Homo sapiens: one gene and its partners. The protein of the gene in region 2 interacts with the protein of the main gene of each other region in a pairwise test. Each region holds a gene or a part of one and is shown on either strand. Other genes may lie near its edges.

Region 1 (7,031 bases), on a different chromosome or scaffold from region 2:
TTTATATATATATATATATATATTTTTTTTTGAGACGGAGTTGCTCTTGTTGCCCAGGCTGGAGTGCAATGGTGAGATCTTGGCTCACTGCAACCTCCACCTCCCGGGTTCAAGCGATTTTCCTGCCTCAGCCTCCCAAGTAGCTGGGATTACAGGCATTGCACCTCCACGCCCGGCTAATTTTGTATTTTTAGTAGAGATGGGGTTTCTCCATGTTGGTCAGGTTGGTCTCAAACTCCCGACCTCAGGTGATCCACCCGCCTCGGCCTCGCAAAGTGCTGGAATTACAGGTGTGAGCCACCGCGCCCGGCCGTAATAATTTTTAAATGTACAGTTCAGTAGTGTTAGGTACACTCACATTGTGCAACCAGTCTCCAGAACTGTTTTCATCTTGCAAAACTGAAACTCCTCACCCATTGAATGATAACTCCTCATTGCCTCATTCTCCCAGCCCTGGTAACCACCATTCTATTTGCCATCTCTGTGAATCTTACTACTCTGGGTACCTCATATAAGTGGAAACATACAGCATTTTTTCCTTTATGAGTAGTTTATTTCACTCAGCATAATGTCCTCCGGGTTCAACTATGTTGTAGCATGTGTCGGAATTCCCTTCCTTTAAAAAAGACTGTATAAATACTCCATGGTACCATATACCAAATTTTGTTTAGTTATCTGTTGATGAACACCTGGATTACTTCTACCTTTTTGTTATTGTTAATGCTGTTATGAGTGTTGGTGCACAAATATCTCTTCAAGACCCTGCTTTGAATTCTCTGGGGTATATACTCAGAAGTGAAATTTCTGAATCATACGGTAATTCTGTTAAATATTTTGAAGAACTGCTCTACTGTTTTAGATACCATCTGCACCATTTCCCACCAACAGCACACAAGGGTTCCAATTTCTCCATATCCTAAGAACACGTTATTTTTATTTATTTTTTCTTTTTTATAGTAGCCATTCTAATGAGTGTGAGGTGGTATCTCACTGTAGTTTTGATTTCCGTTTCCCTAATGATAAGTGATGCTGAGCACATTTTCACTGCTTGTTGGCCATTTATAGAGCTTCTTCAGAGAAAGTTCTGTTCAAGTTCTTTTCTCATTTTCAGACCAGGTTTGGCTTTTGTTGTTGCCTTGTAGGAGTTCTTTATGTATTCTAGATATTAACCCCATATCAGATATATGATTTACAAATATTTTCTCCTATTCTGTGGGTTGTCTTTTCATTTGGTTAACTGTGTCCTTTGATGCACAGAAGTTAGTATGATTTTTTTTTTTTTAAATCATGGCCGGGCATGGTGGCTCATGCCTGTAATTCCAGCACTTTGTGAGGCTGAGGTGGGTGGATCACCTGAGGTCAGGAGTTCAACACCAGCCTGGCCAACATGGCAAAACCCCATCTCTACTAAAAATACAAAAAAAATTAGCCGGGTGTGGTGGTGGGCACCTGTAATCCCAGCTACTCAGGAGGCTGAGGTAGGAGAATTGCTTGAACATGGGGAGTGGAGGTTGCAGTGAGCTGAGATTGCACCACGGCACTCCAGCCTGGGCTAAAGAGCAAGACCCTGTTTCAAAAAAAAATTTTTTTTTCTTGTATTGTCTTGGTTTTTTCTCTTTTCCCCTCTCACGGTAGTGCTATGAGAAGGTGGAGGCAAACTGTTTGCTTTCTCTAACTCCTTTAAAAAGCTGATGCAGACTGTACCTACCCCCTGGGCACCTGCCATGATTAGTCCCTCTTTATCTGAATCTCAGCAGTGCCTAGACCTGCCTCCAATTCTCCATCCAGCTTCTCAGACCACATGTTTTGTCCAGTATCTGCTGTGTGGTCAGCAGGCTTGGGCCTCTGCTTCCTATGGCCCAGAGGGCAGCCTCTCTCCTTGAAGAACCGTGGAGTTTGGGGCAGAAGCCTTTCCTTTCACCACCACTTTGGGAATTGGAATGTAAAAGAAATTCTCTTAATCCCCATGTACACATTGGGGATAAGGTTCTTTCTTTTGTCTTGTGTTCTAGGCAAAGGTAGGGCTCAGAGAAGGGCAGGGTATTGCAGGATGATGATGTAGAGCTGGTGGTGATGGGAAGGAGGAGTACAAATGAGTCAGTGGATAGGGAGACACATGTTAAGGCAGGGCAGCAGTGTGGGTGTAATGACACTGGGGAAACAGACAGCAGTGTGCAGCCGGGGGAGGTCAGAAACCAGTTGCTGCAATGGCTCTCACCTGTAGTCCCAGCTACTCAGGAGGCTAAGGCAGGAGGATCGCTTGAGCCCAGGAGCTCAAAACCAGCCTGAGCAACATAGGGAGACCTCATCTCTAAGTAAATAAAGCAATTATCATTGTGTCAGTACTTATATACTCACATACCCAAATGAAAGTGTCATAATCACAACTGTAGAAGTACTTTGCTAAGCAGTTTTTATGGATTTTATGGCACATTCAAGAAACCCATGAAACAGCTTCTGGTATTATCCCTCCTGCAAGTGAATGAGGTGAGCCTGGAAGAGATCCTAACTGGCCCATGGTTTATTTCTAGCCATAACCAGAGCTGGGGTAAAAAGCAGGGCATGTCTCTGATCAAAGCCTGGCTCTTAACCACTACACCGTCTTTGCTTCCATATCTGGATTTTGAGGCAGAAAAGTTATAACTAGGGTTAGAAGTTTGTTTGTTTGTTTCCTGGGGTGGGGTTAGGTTTTAGGTAATAGACTTTGGCTAATTTACTGTCATGGCTCCTACCTGAGTCCCAGTTACTCAGGTGGCTGAAGTGGGTGCATCACTTGAGCTCAGGAGTTCCAGGCTGGAGTGAGCTATGACCATGCCACTGCCCTCCAGCTTTGGAAACAAAGCAAGACTCTGTCTCTTAAAAAAAAAGAATAAGATTTTGGTTTTGGCTTAGATTTTTTGGATTTTATTTTGTGATATGGTTACCAAGTAGACAGCTGTCAGAGGTCTTTTATGGGCTGGGCGCAGTGGCTTATGCCTGTAATCCCAGCACTTCAGGAGGCCAAGATGGGAGGATTGCTTGAGCCCAGGAGTTTGAGACCAGCCTGGGCAACATAGTGAGAACCTGTCTCTACAAAAAATGCAAACATTAGTTAGGTGTGGTGGCACGTGTCAATAGTCCCAGCTGTTCTGGAGGCTGAGGTGGGAGGATCACTTGAGCCCAGGAGGTTGAGGCTGCAGGGAGCCATGATTGTGTCATTGCACTCCAGCCTGGGCAATAGAGTGAGGCCCTGTCTCAAAAAAAAAAAAAAAATCATTTATGTTACTTGTAGATTCCTGCCCACCTGAAGTTATCTGTCTTATATATTTCCCCTAGTGACTAACTCTTGTTTTACCTAACCTGAATTTCTCCTATAGAATGCCTTCTTAAGATATGCTATCTAGTGACTGTTTGGATTTGTGATTCTCAACACAGATGCATGTTGGAATCACCTGGGAGCTTTTAGTATGTGATGGTTCCTGGGCCTCACCTCAGAGGGACTGAAAAAGAACCTCTGGGCGTGCAGTCCTGAAGTCCATATTTTTAAAGCTTCCTGGGTGATTCTAAAGTCAGCCAGGATTCCCAACCACTAGATTAGGCACGAAATAGACTGGTCGTTCTCACTCTTGAAGAACCAGACATCTAGACTTGACAATAGAAGACGTGTGTAAAATGGATTGCAGGGAACTGCGGTCAGGGAAGGGTGACCTTTCTTAGCCCACAGCCGTGTTGGGGATATAGGAGAGCTTGGAGATGCCCTCACAATCAGGCTGCCAGGGGCAGGCAAAAGCAAACGAGGGTAAAAGAAACTTAGCCTGCTTCGCATGTTTGCTGATTGATTTCCAGGCCTGAGGAAGAGATTCTGAGACTGGGGACAGTGGGAACACATGCTTGGCAGGTGGACAGCAGAAGTTGTTTTGAAACTAGGAGTGCAGAAATGCTCCCAACCAGACTTTTGACTGGATACCTGTCCTCTGCAACTCAGAGCCATGTTTTGATTTGGGGGATGTTTGGGGTCTCCTCTCTCATGCCAAATATTAGGCCAGGTTTCAATTGCATCCTCTGTGATAATAGTTCTGGGTTTTGACACCTTTTTTTTCCCTTTTAGGTTCAGATAATGCACGTGTTTCGAATCCCACTGTGATATGCCAGGAAGACAGCATTGAAGAGGAGTGGATGGGTTTACTGGAGTACCTTTCGAGAATCTCTATTTGTAAAATGAAGAAAGGTAAGCGACTGGGGTGGTGCTTCTAGTTGAGTTTTAAGACCTGGTTCAGGAGGCTCTGGGAAGCTGAGCAGCTGGGTAACTTGGCCATACTATAGGTTCCTGCTCTTTGGAATGCAAAGGCCTGTCTCAGGAAATCCATTGTCAGTTGAAGAAACAAATTCATGTTTGTGTGGCTCTTGCAGTCCCAGAGCCAGCGGCGGTGATTAAGCGTTTCAAGTTTGATAAGGCATAGGATGCAGATTACTTAAAGGAATAAGATTGATTCAAATGATCTTTGGGCTGGTAGCTACACATAGAGATGGGCCTTCTGCTCAGCTGTGTATCTTAAAAACTTGACACCAGAGATTCTCGGCACCTTTCCTACCCAGTGGGGAGGAGCTGCACCTTCCATTTCTCCATTCCGGTTACCACTCGCTTCCGATGACAGGCCCCAGCTGAGAGCGCATCTCAGGTGGATGTGTGTATACTTTCCCCCTAACTTCCTGTCTTTGCCGTAGATTACCGTAAGAAGTACAGAAAGTACGTGAGAAGCAGATTCCAGTGCATTGAAGACAGGAATGCCCGTCTGGGTGAGAGTGTGAGCCTCAACAAACGCTACACACGACTGCGTCTCATCAAGGAGCACCGGAGCCAGCAGGAGAGGGAGCAGGAGCTTCTGGCCATCGGCAAGACCAAGACGTGTGAGAGCCCCGTGAGTCCCATTAAGATGGAGTTGCTGTTTGACCCCGATGATGAGCATTCTGAGCCTGTGCACACCGTGGTGTTCCAGGGGGCGGCAGGGATTGGGAAAACAATCCTGGCCAGGAAGATGATGTTGGACTGGGCGTCGGGGACACTCTACCAAGACAGGTTTGACTATCTGTTCTATATCCACTGTCGAGAGGTGAGCCTTGTGACACAGAGGAGCCTGGGGGACCTGATCATGAGCTGCTGCCCCGACCCAAACCCACCCATCCACAAGATCGTGAGAAAACCCTCCAGAATCCTCTTCCTCATGGACGGCTTCGATGAGCTGCAAGGTGCCTTTGACGAGCACATAGGACCGCTCTGCACTGACTGGCAGAAGGCCGAGCGGGGAGACATTCTCCTGAGCAGCCTCATCAGAAAGAAGCTGCTTCCCGAGGCCTCTCTGCTCATCACCACGAGACCTGTGGCCCTGGAGAAACTGCAGCACTTGCTGGACCATCCTCGGCATGTGGAGATCCTGGGTTTCTCCGAGGCCAAAAGGAAAGAGTACTTCTTCAAGTACTTCTCTGATGAGGCCCAAGCCAGGGCAGCCTTCAGTCTGATTCAGGAGAACGAGGTCCTCTTCACCATGTGCTTCATCCCCCTGGTCTGCTGGATCGTGTGCACTGGACTGAAACAGCAGATGGAGAGTGGCAAGAGCCTTGCCCAGACATCCAAGACCACCACCGCGGTGTACGTCTTCTTCCTTTCCAGTTTGCTGCAGCCCCGGGGAGGGAGCCAGGAGCACGGCCTCTGCGCCCACCTCTGGGGGCTCTGCTCTTTGGCTGCAGATGGAATCTGGAACCAGAAAATCCTGTTTGAGGAGTCCGACCTCAGGAATCATGGACTGCAGAAGGCGGATGTGTCTGCTTTCCTGAGGATGAACCTGTTCCAAAAGGAAGTGGACTGCGAGAAGTTCTACAGCTTCATCCACATGACTTTCCAGGAGTTCTTTGCCGCCATGTACTACCTGCTGGAAGAGGAAAAGGAAGGAAGGACGAACGTTCCAGGGAGTCGTTTGAAGCTTCCCAGCCGAGACGTGACAGTCCTTCTGGAAAACTATGGCAAATTCGAAAAGGGGTATTTGATTTTTGTTGTACGTTTCCTCTTTGGCCTGGTAAACCAGGAGAGGACCTCCTACTTGGAGAAGAAATTAAGTTGCAAGATCTCTCAGCAAATCAGGCTGGAGCTGCTGAAATGGATTGAAGTGAAAGCCAAAGCTAAAAAGCTGCAGATCCAGCCCAGCCAGCTGGAATTGTTCTACTGTTTGTACGAGATGCAGGAGGAGGACTTCGTGCAAAGGGCCATGGACTATTTCCCCAAGATTGAGATCAATCTCTCCACCAGAATGGACCACATGGTTTCTTCCTTTTGCATTGAGAACTGTCATCGGGTGGAGTCACTGTCCCTGGGGTTTCTCCATAACATGCCCAAGGAGGAAGAGGAGGAGGAAAAGGAAGGCCGACACCTTGATATGGTGCAGTGTGTCCTCCCAAGCTCCTCTCATGCTGCCTGTTCTCATGGGTAAGGAAACTCGGCTTCCAGGTGCTTCCTCCTGCTTCCTCGCCAGCTTCTTCTTGGCGCTTGCCTCCTCTCATCTCTTTTCAACTATCTTCCAAATACTGTTGCCACAGCTACATCATAATGCCACCACTGTCTGTTTGAGACTCCTTCATGAGCAAAGATTGATGTATGGTAGGTGGATAAATGGGATGAGGAAAAAAAAAATAAAACAAGGAACAAATGTTTGGGGAATGCCAGTTTAGCACAAGGTATTAAGTAGGATGTAGGATTGCCTACAAATATTTGTCAACTGAAATTTCTTGTAAGCTACTTGGAGCACTAGTGCCTAAGAGTCAGTCAATGTCTGTGGGGCAGAACAATGCCAGAGAGTCTGTGTCCCAGGAGCGAGGGGACAGAGGGCCTCAGAGCTGGAGGCTGGGGGGATGTTTCTTAGAAATGTGCAATCTAAGCCTCCTTTAAGGAATGGTGGGACCTGGGCGCATAGAGAAGAAATTAAAGGAATTCTGCACTGAAGACTGGTATGAGCCAAATCATGAATGCAGTCTGAGAAAAAGTGTGTGCAGGTGACAGTGGA
Region 2 (5,359 bases):
GGGCCTCACTGGGAGCTTCGGCTTGGCCTCTCATGGACCTGGTGCTTATTTTCTTTCCTTTTTACTTACCTACGTCATTGTAGTGTTGACCTAACAAGCACTTTGTTTTCCTGTTGACACACTTCTCTGTTCCTTGGGAGATTGGAGAGGGGTCAGTGCTACTTTTGCCATCCTCAGCAGTGTCAGGGGCCCTAAAGGTCTAGAAGTAGAAGCCCTAGTCCCTCCTGTTGAGTGGTGCTCTAGGGAGGTAGAAGGCCATCTTTGTTTTGCCCAAATGTATACCTCTTCTTTTTCCCATTCTTCTCATGCCTCCCTGACTGGCTCTCATCTTTTTCAGTGGCCCCCTTCTGCTTGCCCACACATGTAGGCGGCTCTCAAAAGTTCTCGTGGCCTCTTTTTCACATTACATGCTTCCTCTGGATGTCTTATCTAACAATACAACATGGACTTTCTGCGGAAATGATTCCCAAGCCTTTATTTTCCCATTAGTTGCTAGGTGTACATTTTCAGATGCTGGTTTGCCATCTCTTGAGGTAGCATATTTCAAAGCCAGATCACCCCGCTTACTCTTGGATCTCCCCTCTTCCTCTTGTTGAGAGTTGGAAGCAGAGAATGGGTAGTATCTCTATATCCCTTTTCCTTTGCTAATTTGCCCTTTTTTGGAACATTTGTTAACCCTAGTCATTCTCTGCTAAAGGAGGGCTTGACTAGAGCTACTTAACGAGAGTTTAGTGCATACCTATCCTATGGAAGCCAGTGTGTTGAGCCCTTCTTAGGGCTGCCAAAGAAATGGATGCTCCTATGCCCAGGCTCAGTCAGGGACTTGGGAGATACTATACTTGGGATGGGAGTAAGTGGAATGCCAGCTGCCATGCATAATGCAGTGGTGTTCATGGTGGTTGGTCAGCCCACACTGTATCAAGCTCTGCAGATTTTTACTCTGTTAATGCACATATTACCTCATTAGTCTTGGCCTTCCTGGGGAGTTGTATGTAACATGTATTTTCTCTCTCATAGTGATTGACGACACAACCAAAGAGGTGGTGTATAGGGATTATATTGACATCAGTGTTGCAGTGGCCACCCCACGGGTATGTTGGGGCAGGAGGTGGGGAATGTTGGTCTTAGACCCTCACCTTATCTGTGTGAAGGAGATCACACAAGAGAAATCATTTCTTTAATTCTGTATTTTTAGAAGGGAGTTAGTAAAAGTAACCTTTTTTTTCTTTTAAACCATGCCGCATTCTTTTAACACTTTCTGTTAATCACACTGAGTAATGAAGGTATTCTAGGGAGGGCATACCATGGGTTGAATCAAGGGAGTTGTTAACTATAAAAGGTACTATTAATTTGCAACTGAAAACAGCTTTTCACCCCCTTCAGGGTCTGGTGGTTCCAGTCATCAGGAATGTGGAAGCTATGAATTTTGCAGATATTGAACGGACCATCACTGAACTGGGAGAGAAGGTAAAGTAGAAAGATGTATACAAGCTGCTAAGCAGGCGAGGGAAGAGAGCCTTCAGAAGGCTGGGCTCACTAGCAAGCAGTGCTCATGGAAAGTCAAGTGCATAGCCCCTGAGAAAAGCAGTTGCCCATGAGAGCTAAGTATTTTATATATCTGGTGGAGTTTACCATGCTCTGGTAACTGAAATCTCATCAGATGAGACCTGCTAGAAAAGATCATCTTTGAAGTCTTCAACTGTATGAAATTGTGCCTTTTCTCTGGTGGAGCACTGGTCATAGACACCTTAGCCGAACAACTGTCACACGGAAGCTAGCGCTTGTGCCATCGATCTCGATACAAGCTTTCTGGACTTCCTTTGCTTTTTTGTTTTTAGAGGCAGGGTCTCGCTGTGTTGCCCAGGCTGGAGTAGAGTGGTAGAGTCATAGCTTACTGCAGCCTTGCACTCCTGGGCTCAAGCGATTCTCCTGCCTCAGCCTCCCAAGTAGCTGGGACTACAGGTGTGCACCACCATGCCTGGCTAATTCTTAAGTTTTTTATACAGATGGGGGTCTCACTATGTTGCCCAGGTTGGCCTTGAACTCCTGGCCTCAAGCAGTCCTCCTGCCTCGGCCTCCCAAAGCGCTGGGATTATGGACTGACTTTAGGTGAAGGAAACTGGGTTGGCTTGATATTTCAATTATGAAATCTGTTTTTAGGCCCGAAAGAATGAACTTGCCATTGAAGATATGGATGGCGGTACCTTCACCATTAGCAATGGAGGCGTTTTTGGCTCGCTCTTTGGAACACCCATTATCAACCCCCCTCAGTCTGCCATCCTGGGGATGCATGGCATCTTTGACAGGCCAGTGGCTATAGGAGGCAAGGTAGGAACCGTCACTTCTAAGGTCCTAGTGGCTAGGTCTCGATGAAAGGGAAATCCAACTAAATGCTAATTGTAAAACATTAACTATAATTTCAGGCCTAAGTTCCATTTCTTAGTTTCTAATAGCTAAGGCACTGATTATCAAATTGTGGTCTGGATCAGCATCATCTGGGACCTTATTAGAAATGCATATTCTTAGACCCCATCCCAGACTTAAAGAAGAAGTGCAGATGATCCTGATGCATATTCAAGTTTGAGAACCACTGAGCTGAGGAGGCTTGTTTGCTTCTATGGAGTGGGGGATATAGTTGGAAACGTGGTCCCTTGCCCCTGGGAAACAGATGACAATTATGCATGTCAGTCTGTGAGCTGCCAAGTTGTATGATAAAGCTTGTAAATTTCCCGGGAGTTCAGAGAATTAAGTATTAAAAGGGGCTTGAGCTGGCCCTTAGAAGATACGTTGGTATCAAAAAAGCTTTCTGGGAACTCCTGTGTTTAGAATCCTTTTGGGTTACTGACTCCTGTGTGAAACCACAGTCTGTAGATCTTCCTGGAAAATGCCCATACACCCAGCTACACATACAATTCCAGAATTTGTAGACCCTGGCTTAATTTTTTTTTTTTTTTTTAAATTCTAACCCCAGAGAGAAGCAAGTACAGGCAGCCAGAACTGAAGGGAAAACTTTCCTTGTAGGCAGCAGATGCGTTAGAGGGCAGAGTATGTTTTTAAAAAATAAAAGGCAGTTGTGAGAAGACAGTTTTCTTGGCAAACTTTGTTTCTGAGTGGGGAAGCTTTGCACTGAGGGTAAGTCCTGGTCTTTGAAATACTGTAAATATGCAGAGGCAACATCAATAGGAAAGGCTCTGGAATTAGGAACTTTCTTATGGGCTGTGCTAAATCTCCTTCAGCGAGGCTGGCTGTGGCTTGCTGGAGACAAACCTATTTACCTTTCCTCTCTGTAGGTAGAGGTGCGGCCCATGATGTACGTGGCACTGACCTATGATCACCGGCTGATTGATGGCAGAGAGGCTGTGACTTTCCTCCGCAAAATCAAGGCAGCGGTAGAGGATCCCAGAGTCCTCCTCCTGGATCTTTAGGAGGAACCCACACACCCTACAAGTTGATCATGCAGGAACTGAAAACCAGTCTTCTCCCTGTCCCCTCATGGGTCCCGGGTTAGCCTGGTGACAGGCAGACACATGCTGTTGGCCTCAAGCAAGGAAGCAGAGCACTGTGTAACCAGCAGTCACAGGTCTTTTCTTGGCGTTCCTGCCAGGCTCTCCCTCTCTGCACCTGTCTCATAGCCTCGAATATCTTAATTCCTTAGGCTTAAGAGAGAGAGCCTTAATGGATGCTCATTCATATTCCTGCCTTTCTTCCATCAGCTCTCTGCAAAGATGATTTTGCTTTTCCCTAGTGCTGGTATACTATAGAGAAACCCCTGGGGACCATGTGATTAAGTTCCTATCTTTTGAAAGTTTGTTCTGCAGAGACTTCTAGGAGGATGCTGTGCCTCCCAAGCTCAGAGCAGCCTCTGTCCTGGCTGTGCACATTCTCCCTTGATTCCACTTGTGTGGAGGGATTGAACACAGGCAAAGAGGTGCTGCTTTGCTTCTTCAATGGCACCTTCATTCTCCGTTGTCATTGACTTCAAGATGCCTCTTCTACCTCTTCCAGGAAGCACAGGCCAGGGGATCTGGGTGTGTGAGTGGGAGGAGAGGGCAGAGGTCCCCTGAGGTCATGCATTGTAATCATCATAGAAGGAGAGCCCAGGCCTGCCCTCACGCTCTCCATCATAGGCTGACACCAAGAAGACTCGTCTTGGCACAATCTCACACAGCTGGGGCTGTAGCAACCCTTTCCAACCCCTTTGCTGGTTGCTGGGCCTCATTCTAGCACCTTGTTCTTAGAGCAGATTCTAGCACATCATGGCAGTGGGACCAAGCGTGGTCCCGAGGAAGGGCCAGAGCCTGGTAGAGACTAGGGAAGGGAGGTCTCCTCTAGACTGACTCACATTGCCTTGAGCTTTTCAGTTAAGTTGCTGTAAGCACCTGGGCTGAGGAGGCAGTTTTTGTTCCTTCCTGCGTTATAGCGGGGCCTTGTCTCTTCCTCTGCAGGACACAGATCTGGAGGACGTGGACTGGGGTAGGAAACCACCCTGAGGGTGTTAGTACCTAGTGGTGAAACGGATGAGGTCATTTCTAAGGTGTGTTGCCCGTGGATCTGGGCACAATCATTGGAATTCCTTGGAGCCACTGGGATTCATGGCTTTGTATCCAACTGCATCCAGGCCTGAGGCTGCTGACGTTTGACACCAGGGCCAGTAGAGAGTGCCCTTTTGTATCTTAAGCCAAGAAGTGAGGCCTGGGGGTGGGGGAGGGGGGAAGGGGTGGGAGCCAATACTGAGTGCCTGCAGCATCTACTACTCTGTCTTCACTATTCAGAACTTGTAACTAAAGTATTTAAAGAAACTGATTTTAAATGCAAATTAAAGGGCAGATATTCTCAAACAGGGTTCCTGTATCTGTTCCTTTTGGCTACTGAGGTGGTACAAGTCCCCAGCACTGTTGCACTGAAATTATTGAAAGCCACTCAAGGTCCTGTTGCTTATTTTGTGAAATCAGAAATCCCTTATGTGGAACTTAACACTCATAATTTGACAGAAGGTAGAACCCTGACTGCCAGCCGGGAAAGTGTTGCCAAAAAGAGTCAACCTCTGTAAAAATATTTGAAGAGATTTATTCTGAGCCAAGTGTGAGTGACTGATGGCCTGTGATACAACTCTTAGGAGATCCTGAGAACATGTGTCCAGGGTCGTCTGGCTACAACTTAGTTTTATACATTTAATACATTTTAGGGAGACATAAGATACCAGTCAGTACATGTAAGATGTACAGTGGTTTGGTCTGGAGAGGCAGGACAGCTCAAGACCTGGGGATGTTGTCATAGGCAGAATCAAAGATTTTCTGATTGGCAATTGGTTGAAAGAGTTATTATCTAAAGACCTGGAATCAATAGAAAGGAATGTCTG
Region 3 (7,031 bases), on a different chromosome or scaffold from region 2:
TAAAATGGAGTATTTCTGTAAGACAGGTTCCTAGGCTGGGAGTGCCTGAGTCAAAGAGCACAGTCATGTGTTGCATAAGGACAGTTCAGTCAAAGATGAACCACATATACAACCGTGGTCCCATAAGATTGTCATATACTGTATTTTTACCATACCTTTTCTATGTTTAGGTAAGTTTATATGCACAAATACTTACCATCCTGCTCTGGTTGCCTACAGTATTTGGTACAGTGCCTGCTGTACAGATTCACTGGCCAGGAGCTATAGGCCACACCCTACAGCCTAGGTGTGTAGTTGGCAGTACCATCTAAGGTTGTTAAGTAATATTCTGTGATGTTTGCACGATGACAAAAGTCATGTAAGGACACATTTCTCAGAACATACCCCCTTCGTTAAGCAACACATGACTGTCTTTGCATTGAAAATTTTGATAGATACTAACTCGCCCTTCACAAGGGTAAAAACAGTTTGCACTCTCAACAGCCATGCTCCCACCTTCTTGCTGACATTACATCTTATTCTCTGTAATGTTTGCCAATCTGATGGGGGGCGGAAAGGACCACAGTGTCAAGTGTATTTTTGGATCATAGTTTTCAAGCATATTTTTAGTACCATTTATAATTTTTTTATATGTCAATATAAAATATTTAGAAAATATTTTCTACTGGATGTTACAAATTAATCTTTATTATCTTTTCTCAGGACTTACAAAGTACCCAAGCATCTAGTCTGGAACTGACAGAGATAAGTAGAGAAAATGTAAATATTAAATCTTTTAATGAGCCACTGGTTTAAAAATGTTGTTTTAGCTGCCATGTTAATGAAATGGCAAGAAGGCTGGGTTTTTGAAAATTATGCTTTTAGAACGCAAGTAATCACTTGAAAATTGAGATACATACTTGTGGTGCCAGGCACGCAGTAAGTTTTTGCTGATGATTCACCTGTCAGTTTCTGTAACTGCCACTCACTGTTCTTATGTAAAAAGCACTCTCTCACTCTTAACTGCTGAATAGTACTGTTCTGGGGTATTTCCAAATATTGAACATCAGCCAGTGCACTGGCAAATGAACTTCCATGTGTATCTTCAACCCCTGGGAGAATAACTGCAATTTAAAAATGCGCTGTTATTAATGGAGAAAGTGAGGTCTTACCGACTGGCACGTTCACACCTCACAGACAGAACAGAATCTTAGCATTCTGGGGGCACCCTGGAAAGGACAACTAAGACACGTTTGAAGTTCATGTAGTGCTGGGTGAAGGTGGTGGCTCAGGCCTGTAGTCCCAGCGCTTTGGCTGAGGTGGGGGGATTGCTTGAGCCTAGGAGTTTGAGATCAGCCTGGGCCACATAGGGAGAACCCCATCTCTACAAAAAATTAAAAAATTATCTGGGCATGGTGGCGCATGGCTGTGATCCCAGCTTTGGGTGGCTGAAGTAGGCGGATGACTTGAGCCCAGGAGGTTGAGGCTGCAGTGAGCCATGATTGAGCCACTGCATCCCAGTGTGGATGACAGAGTAAGACCCTGTCTCTTAAAAAAATTTCATATAGTTCTATGAAAAATTATTAATTTATGGTGGAGGATAAAGGACTCAGATGAACAGGGATATCAGACTCTCTTCTCAACCCGTGTAGCCCTTCACAACACCATACCATTCCGTCATAAAGCACCAGCTGCCTGGAGGTCACACCAGAGTGGAGCAGGAACATCCCAGGCTCCGGCCAGGCTCAGCTCAGCACAACCAAGACTTCAGATTATAAACTATAATTCTTCCCCTTCTAACATTGTTGTGTTTTGTTTCTTTTCCAATAGGTTCCAAAGTCTGGCACGCCCCAGCTTGTGAGTATTTTTGCCTGGGTTATTTCATGTGGAATATTTTATAAAGTTGCATAGAAAATGAACAGTTTAAACCGTGGAGGGCAGCTTCATTCATTCCATTCCTTACTGTAGAACTGTTTCCCTACAGCCTAGTAATAGAGGAGGAGACATTTCTAAAATCGCACCCAGAACTGTCTACACCAAGAGCAAAGATTCGACTGTCAATCACACTTTGACTTGCACCAAAATACCACCTATGAACTATGTGTCAAAGGTTTGAAGAGCACCAAATTTTCTTAACTCTATATAAAAATTAAGTTGTAATGAGCTGTTACGAGTAACCTGTATCCACAATAGAGGCCCAAAGCAGCCCCCTCTGCATTTGTGTGCCGTCCCTGGACGGATTCGAGAGTCAACCAGGCCTGCCTCTGAGCCATTCCTGTGTATTTCCTCAGCACCTCCCTGCTTGGCTGCTTCCCCTTCAGGCAGAACACAGTACTGCCTCAGACCCCAGGCACAGGGGGCCTTCCTGGCGTGTTTCACTCATACAGAGGGCATCGGGTCCCACCCTGTCACTCATTTCATCGTCTAAAATGTAATCATGTGTGTTTGCTTCGAGCCAGGGACAGTGCTGCTGCAGGGGACCCAGCTGGGACCAAGGCAGACTGTCTCTCCCCTCCTGGGATTTACAGGGTCATGGCTCTGAAACATTCCGTAGTGTTCTTTGGACACGAGTTTTCCCTGGAGATCGCTTTCTGCAGGCCTCTTGGTCCTGACTGTGGCTTCTTTTCAGAGGCTGCCATTCGCTGCAAGGTTGAACACCCCCATGGGCCCTGGACGAACTGTCGTCGTTAAAGGAGAAGTGAATGCAAATGCCAAAAGGTCAGTATCCTTCGGTACCAGTCACAGTGCAGATACTTCCGTGCCTGTTACCGCCTTCCACCCGTGAACGGTCCTGTGAGCTGGAAGAAGGGCTAGCGTCAGAATCTTCATTTCCAAAGTGAGATGATTCAAGCAGGAGGTGGTTAGATTGTGAACAGCCAGTGGGCAGCAGAGCCGACTAAGGCCGTGTTCTGACCTCGGCTTTTTCTGGCCAGACAAGAGAGTAGCATTTTTGTCCACGAGGCCTATCCTTGCCTTGTAGAACTCCAGAGCAGCCCCGTAAGATCAGGCAACATCTTTTCTTTTTTTTTTTTGAGATGGAGCCTCACTGTGTCACCCAGGCTGGAGTGCAGTGTCACAATCCCAGCACACCACAACCTCCGCTTCCTGGGTGTTCAAGCCATTCTCCTACCTCAGCCTCTGGAGTAGCTGGGATTACAGGCGCACCACCACGCCCAGCTACTTTTTGAATTTTTGTATTTTTAGTAGAGACAGGGGTTCACCATGTTGGCCAGGCTGGTCTGGAACTCCTGACCTCAAGTGATCCGCCCACTTCGCCCTCCCAGTGCTGGGATTACAGGTGTGAGTCACCACGCCCAGCCCAGGCAACATTTTTTAGGGCCCCTCTTGTCATGTGATTTAGAAAATTTCTGCTTTAACAACTTTTTCCACAGACGTCCAGCCTTCTGAAAGCTTGAAATTAGAGCTATTTCCTAGAAAGTGGCATACTTTCAAGAAGGAAGGAACACGGGTAGATGATGAAAAGAGAATACCTGCTTGAGAGGATCCCAGGCTCCTGCAGCCTGAAGTAGTCATTCAGTTTAGCGTTAAACCTTCCATTTCTGTCCAACCACATCTCAGCCTCAACGCTGATTTTAAAGGGTTTTTTTTTTCGTATTTTTATTTTGCAAGTAACGAATTAGTGGAATGCTGACTGGGTTTAAAATTTCAACTTCACCTGCATTCCCATGTCCATGTGGATACGTGTGTTTCATAGAGTTAGAATCATAGTTCAAGTCTGGTCACTAACATTGCTGAAATTGCCACTACTCTGTCCTACTTGGTTAATTAAGGTTTTTTTTTTTCTTTCTTTCTCAAAAGCTTTAATGTTGACCTACTAGCAGGAAAATCAAAGGATATTGCTCTACACTTGAACCCACGCCTGAATATTAAAGCATTTGTAAGAAATTCTTTTCTTCAGGAGTCCTGGGGAGAAGAAGAGAGAAATATTACCTCTTTCCCATTTAGTCCTGGGATGTACTTTGAGGTGAGGTTACAGTTTTTGAAAATGGGACAGCAATAAGAATCCTGGGAGCAGGGGTGGGATAAGTGGTCCATTTAAATCAAGTCCTAACTCAGTATGTGGAAGTTGTGTATGTTTTTTGTTTACTTGGAGATTGTAATTTGCCCCTTTTTATAACGTGGGCAATCAGTATAAATGGCAAAGCCAGTAGAGTGTCAAATTATGCACATTGGAATTGACATTTGTCATCATATTAAAATTCCTGTGTAGCCCCATATTGATAGGAATTTAACCAGGAAGCTTGTCTCAGGACTGGAGTCACACATTTAATCATATAAGCAGACTTGAGGACGTGGAGACCCTAAAACTGCTTGCTTGCACTGGCCATCATCTCCCATCAGGGTAGACGGTTTCAGGTGGCAGTCCTTTCTCCTAAGGAGTTAGTCTTGTTTGTATGTATTCAAGGAAAAATACATCAGTCCCTTGGAACTAAAAGGCATGCAGTCCTGAGTCCCCAGATAGGTGAATATTGTAACACATACCTTTCCCGAAATATGTTTCTGGGATGCTGAGCAGAGAATAGTCTCCTTGTGATGCGGATGCCGGGTGTTTGGCCAGCCTCAATCACCAGCTCAGGTGCCACTGCCTCACACAGTCACTTAGGGTCATTGGTTTAGGTTATCATTCTACAGCATTTTAAACTGACACATTGTCTGGACCATGTGGGTTCTTGAGGACTCATCAAAACTCGTTACTAAAAGCATGAATATCAGGCGGAATAGATAGCAATGTGACATTCATATTTATCCCTAAGTTCCAGTCTAATGCAGTGCCCTGGTATGTGGAGTGTAGACAGATGTGGGCTAATCATGGAAGGTTCCCTGAAGTTGTGGATATTGGTTTGGAATTCAGAAAGCTGGGAAGGATGTGGAAGGCTGAAGGTTGGCTTTTCTAGATTTAGGGCATGATTTGAACAAGTCCTTAGAGGTGGGAAGGGCAGCACAGGGTTGTTAGCTTGGCAAGAGTCAAGGCGCAAAGGGTGACTTGGGGTTCACTGGAGGGAAACAGAGGTGAGTGCTCTAGAAGGAAGTTGAGCCTTGTGGTGGGTGACAGGAAACCAATGATGTAACTTGTTTTTGACCTATCTGGGCCCCAAGTTTGGATCTGCTATATTAATATAAAAAAGGATAATAATGATACATTCAAATAATGCTGAAAAATACTAAGATGAAAATACCTCCAACTTCATAATTCAAACCATACCATTAGGATTAGGTGAACCACATTCCAGGCATTTTTTTGCAGAGACAGTGAAAGGGATGGCTGGCTGAAGGAATGAATAGATGAATGTTATATGCTTTTGAACAATCGTCTTTTCCATTTAATTTTCTAATTCAGGAGCAGTAATTATCCTTGTGTTGATCACTGCTGACGATTTTCTATACTGATAGGTCCTTTCCGGGGGCTTCCATCTCTTGCCTTTTAAATATGCTTGCATTGAGATTATCTCAGGTCTTTCCATTATGCCATTACTTTCATTTTAAATCTTCTTGCTCTTTCAAATACACTTTAGTTGTATCTACAGTTTTTTAAAAACAATCTCATTCAGTGTTGTAATTTCATCTGTGGGCTCTTCCTCTGGATGAAATCCGTGTTCCAGCTGTTCGGCAGCATCAGATGGTTGTGAGGGATTCTGTTGTTCTGTTTTCTTCTAGGCAAAGGATGTGCCTTCTTTTCATTTGCAGTAGTCTGCTCACCCGGAAGCATGTCATTTCTTTGCCACTTGCTTGTAATTCACTGGCTTTGCACTTGCTCTGATACAGTACAGGTAACTAATTGACTCCCTCTGCTGCCAACTTGGTTTTCCTTCTGAGCTATAGCATCAGGCTGTGTGTTTTGTGTTTTCTTGAGATTTTGTTAAATATATCTGGGGTCCCTTCTACCTGGTTGGAACTGGGATTCCCACCATTCTTGTGGGGATAGAATCTCAGGTTACACCTATTTCCCCAATCCTCTGTAGCCACAGAAGCTTCATCTTGGCCAGCTGTTATCAGAGTGCAGGACTTGGGCTGAAATTTCCTCCCCTTCCTGATTTTCCTTGACAGTCCTTTCCACTGCTCCTATCAAAAGAATGGAAACCCTCAACTTGCTGCTTTGCAGATTCAGGTTTTGTGCTTCATTCTGGCCTCTCGGGGTGGGGCCGGGTTAGCAGCAAGGCTGAGCTGCCCCTCTTTCTTCTGAAGCCTTCATGGGGGCGAGGAGCACAGGGAGAGCTCAGTGCAGGGCCTCCCAGTGGCCTTCTCAGAGTGGGTGGAAACCCAGCCTGGCACTGGCAGCGTGGCACCAGAAGTATGAAGTGTAGGTGTAAAGGTGATGTAAAAGGCTAGTAGGTTTTTTGGTTTTTCATTGTTTGAGTTTTGGGCATAGATGACTGTGAAGGGCGAACACTGCCGATGGATCTGAATTTGTAGTATGTGCACCACTTCCAACTTACGGGATACCCAGCTTTGACGGCTTTGGACAAACACACTGAGGCCAAGATGTGCTGAGCTTATCAGGATCAGGATCACCAAGCAGCTGTAAAAACCCTAGCAAGTGCCTTAAGCTGCTGAAATTTCATATTAATTGTCTGGTTTGTTCATGGTCCTAGAGTTTGAGGCAGAAAAGTCAGTCAGGATCCAAGTCCCTTGGTTCCAGGCTACAGCTGGAAACAGCATCTCGGTGAACTAAAGCAACCATATTAGGAGTGAGTTTTCCTGCTTTAGGAGAGTCCCCAGCATCGGCGAGGAGGGGCAGCACTCTGGCTTTCCAGGAGCAAGGGGCAGGATGCGGCCGAGGGAGAGGGGCTGTGTTGAGGAAAGGAGGGCCGCAGGCCCTGGGGATGGTGTGAGGCTCCAAACATGTCCGAGTCACTTCCCTGGGTGGGATGAGGCAGACAGTGCCACCACCAGGGACACTTTAGTTAGATTAGGGTCTTGGAAGTCAGAAGGAAGTCAGCAGCAGCAGGCTGGAACTTTTCTATGTATAATCAAATGGTTTACTCTGACACCGTTAGCATGTAACAAACACAAAATTTTAAACTAAGGGGAAC

Evidence for each region. Proteins that work in one complex are often made in the same cells at the same time.
Region 1: the proteins of DLST (region 2) and NLRP3 interact in binary tests that used the Homo sapiens proteins (3 or more experiments, as listed by UniProt).
Region 3: the proteins of DLST (region 2) and LGALS8 interact in binary tests that used the Homo sapiens proteins (3 or more experiments, as listed by UniProt).

Annotation. Positions count from the first base shown.
Region 1 is NC_000001.11:247,419,143-247,426,173, forward strand, and holds part of NLRP3 (NACHT, LRR and PYD domains-containing protein 3), read left to right. Parts: intron 1-4,087; coding exon 4,088-4,207; intron 4,208-4,704; coding exon 4,705-6,457; intron 6,458-7,031. UniProt on the Homo sapiens protein: Sensor component of the NLRP3 inflammasome, which mediates inflammasome activation in response to defects in membrane integrity, leading to secretion of inflammatory cytokines IL1B and IL18 and pyroptosis.
Region 2 is NC_000014.9:74,898,906-74,904,264, forward strand, and holds the end of DLST (dihydrolipoyllysine-residue succinyltransferase component of 2-oxoglutarate dehydrogenase complex, mitochondrial isoform 1 precursor), read left to right. Parts: intron 1-1,017; coding exon 1,018-1,091; intron 1,092-1,383; coding exon 1,384-1,467; intron 1,468-2,160; coding exon 2,161-2,328; intron 2,329-3,290; coding exon 3,291-3,425; 3' UTR 3,426-4,838; downstream 4,839-5,359. UniProt on the Homo sapiens protein: Dihydrolipoamide succinyltransferase (E2) component of the 2-oxoglutarate dehydrogenase complex. The 2-oxoglutarate dehydrogenase complex catalyzes the overall conversion of 2-oxoglutarate to succinyl-CoA and CO(2).
Region 3 is NC_000001.11:236,540,952-236,547,982, forward strand, and holds part of LGALS8 (galectin-8), read left to right. Parts: intron 1-702; coding exon 703-759; intron 760-1,809; coding exon 1,810-1,836; intron 1,837-1,963; coding exon of another isoform or gene 1,964-2,089; intron 2,090-2,608; coding exon 2,609-2,697; intron 2,698-3,798; coding exon 3,799-3,964; intron 3,965-4,210; coding exon of another isoform or gene 4,211-4,270; exon of another isoform or gene 4,271-7,010; intron 7,011-7,031.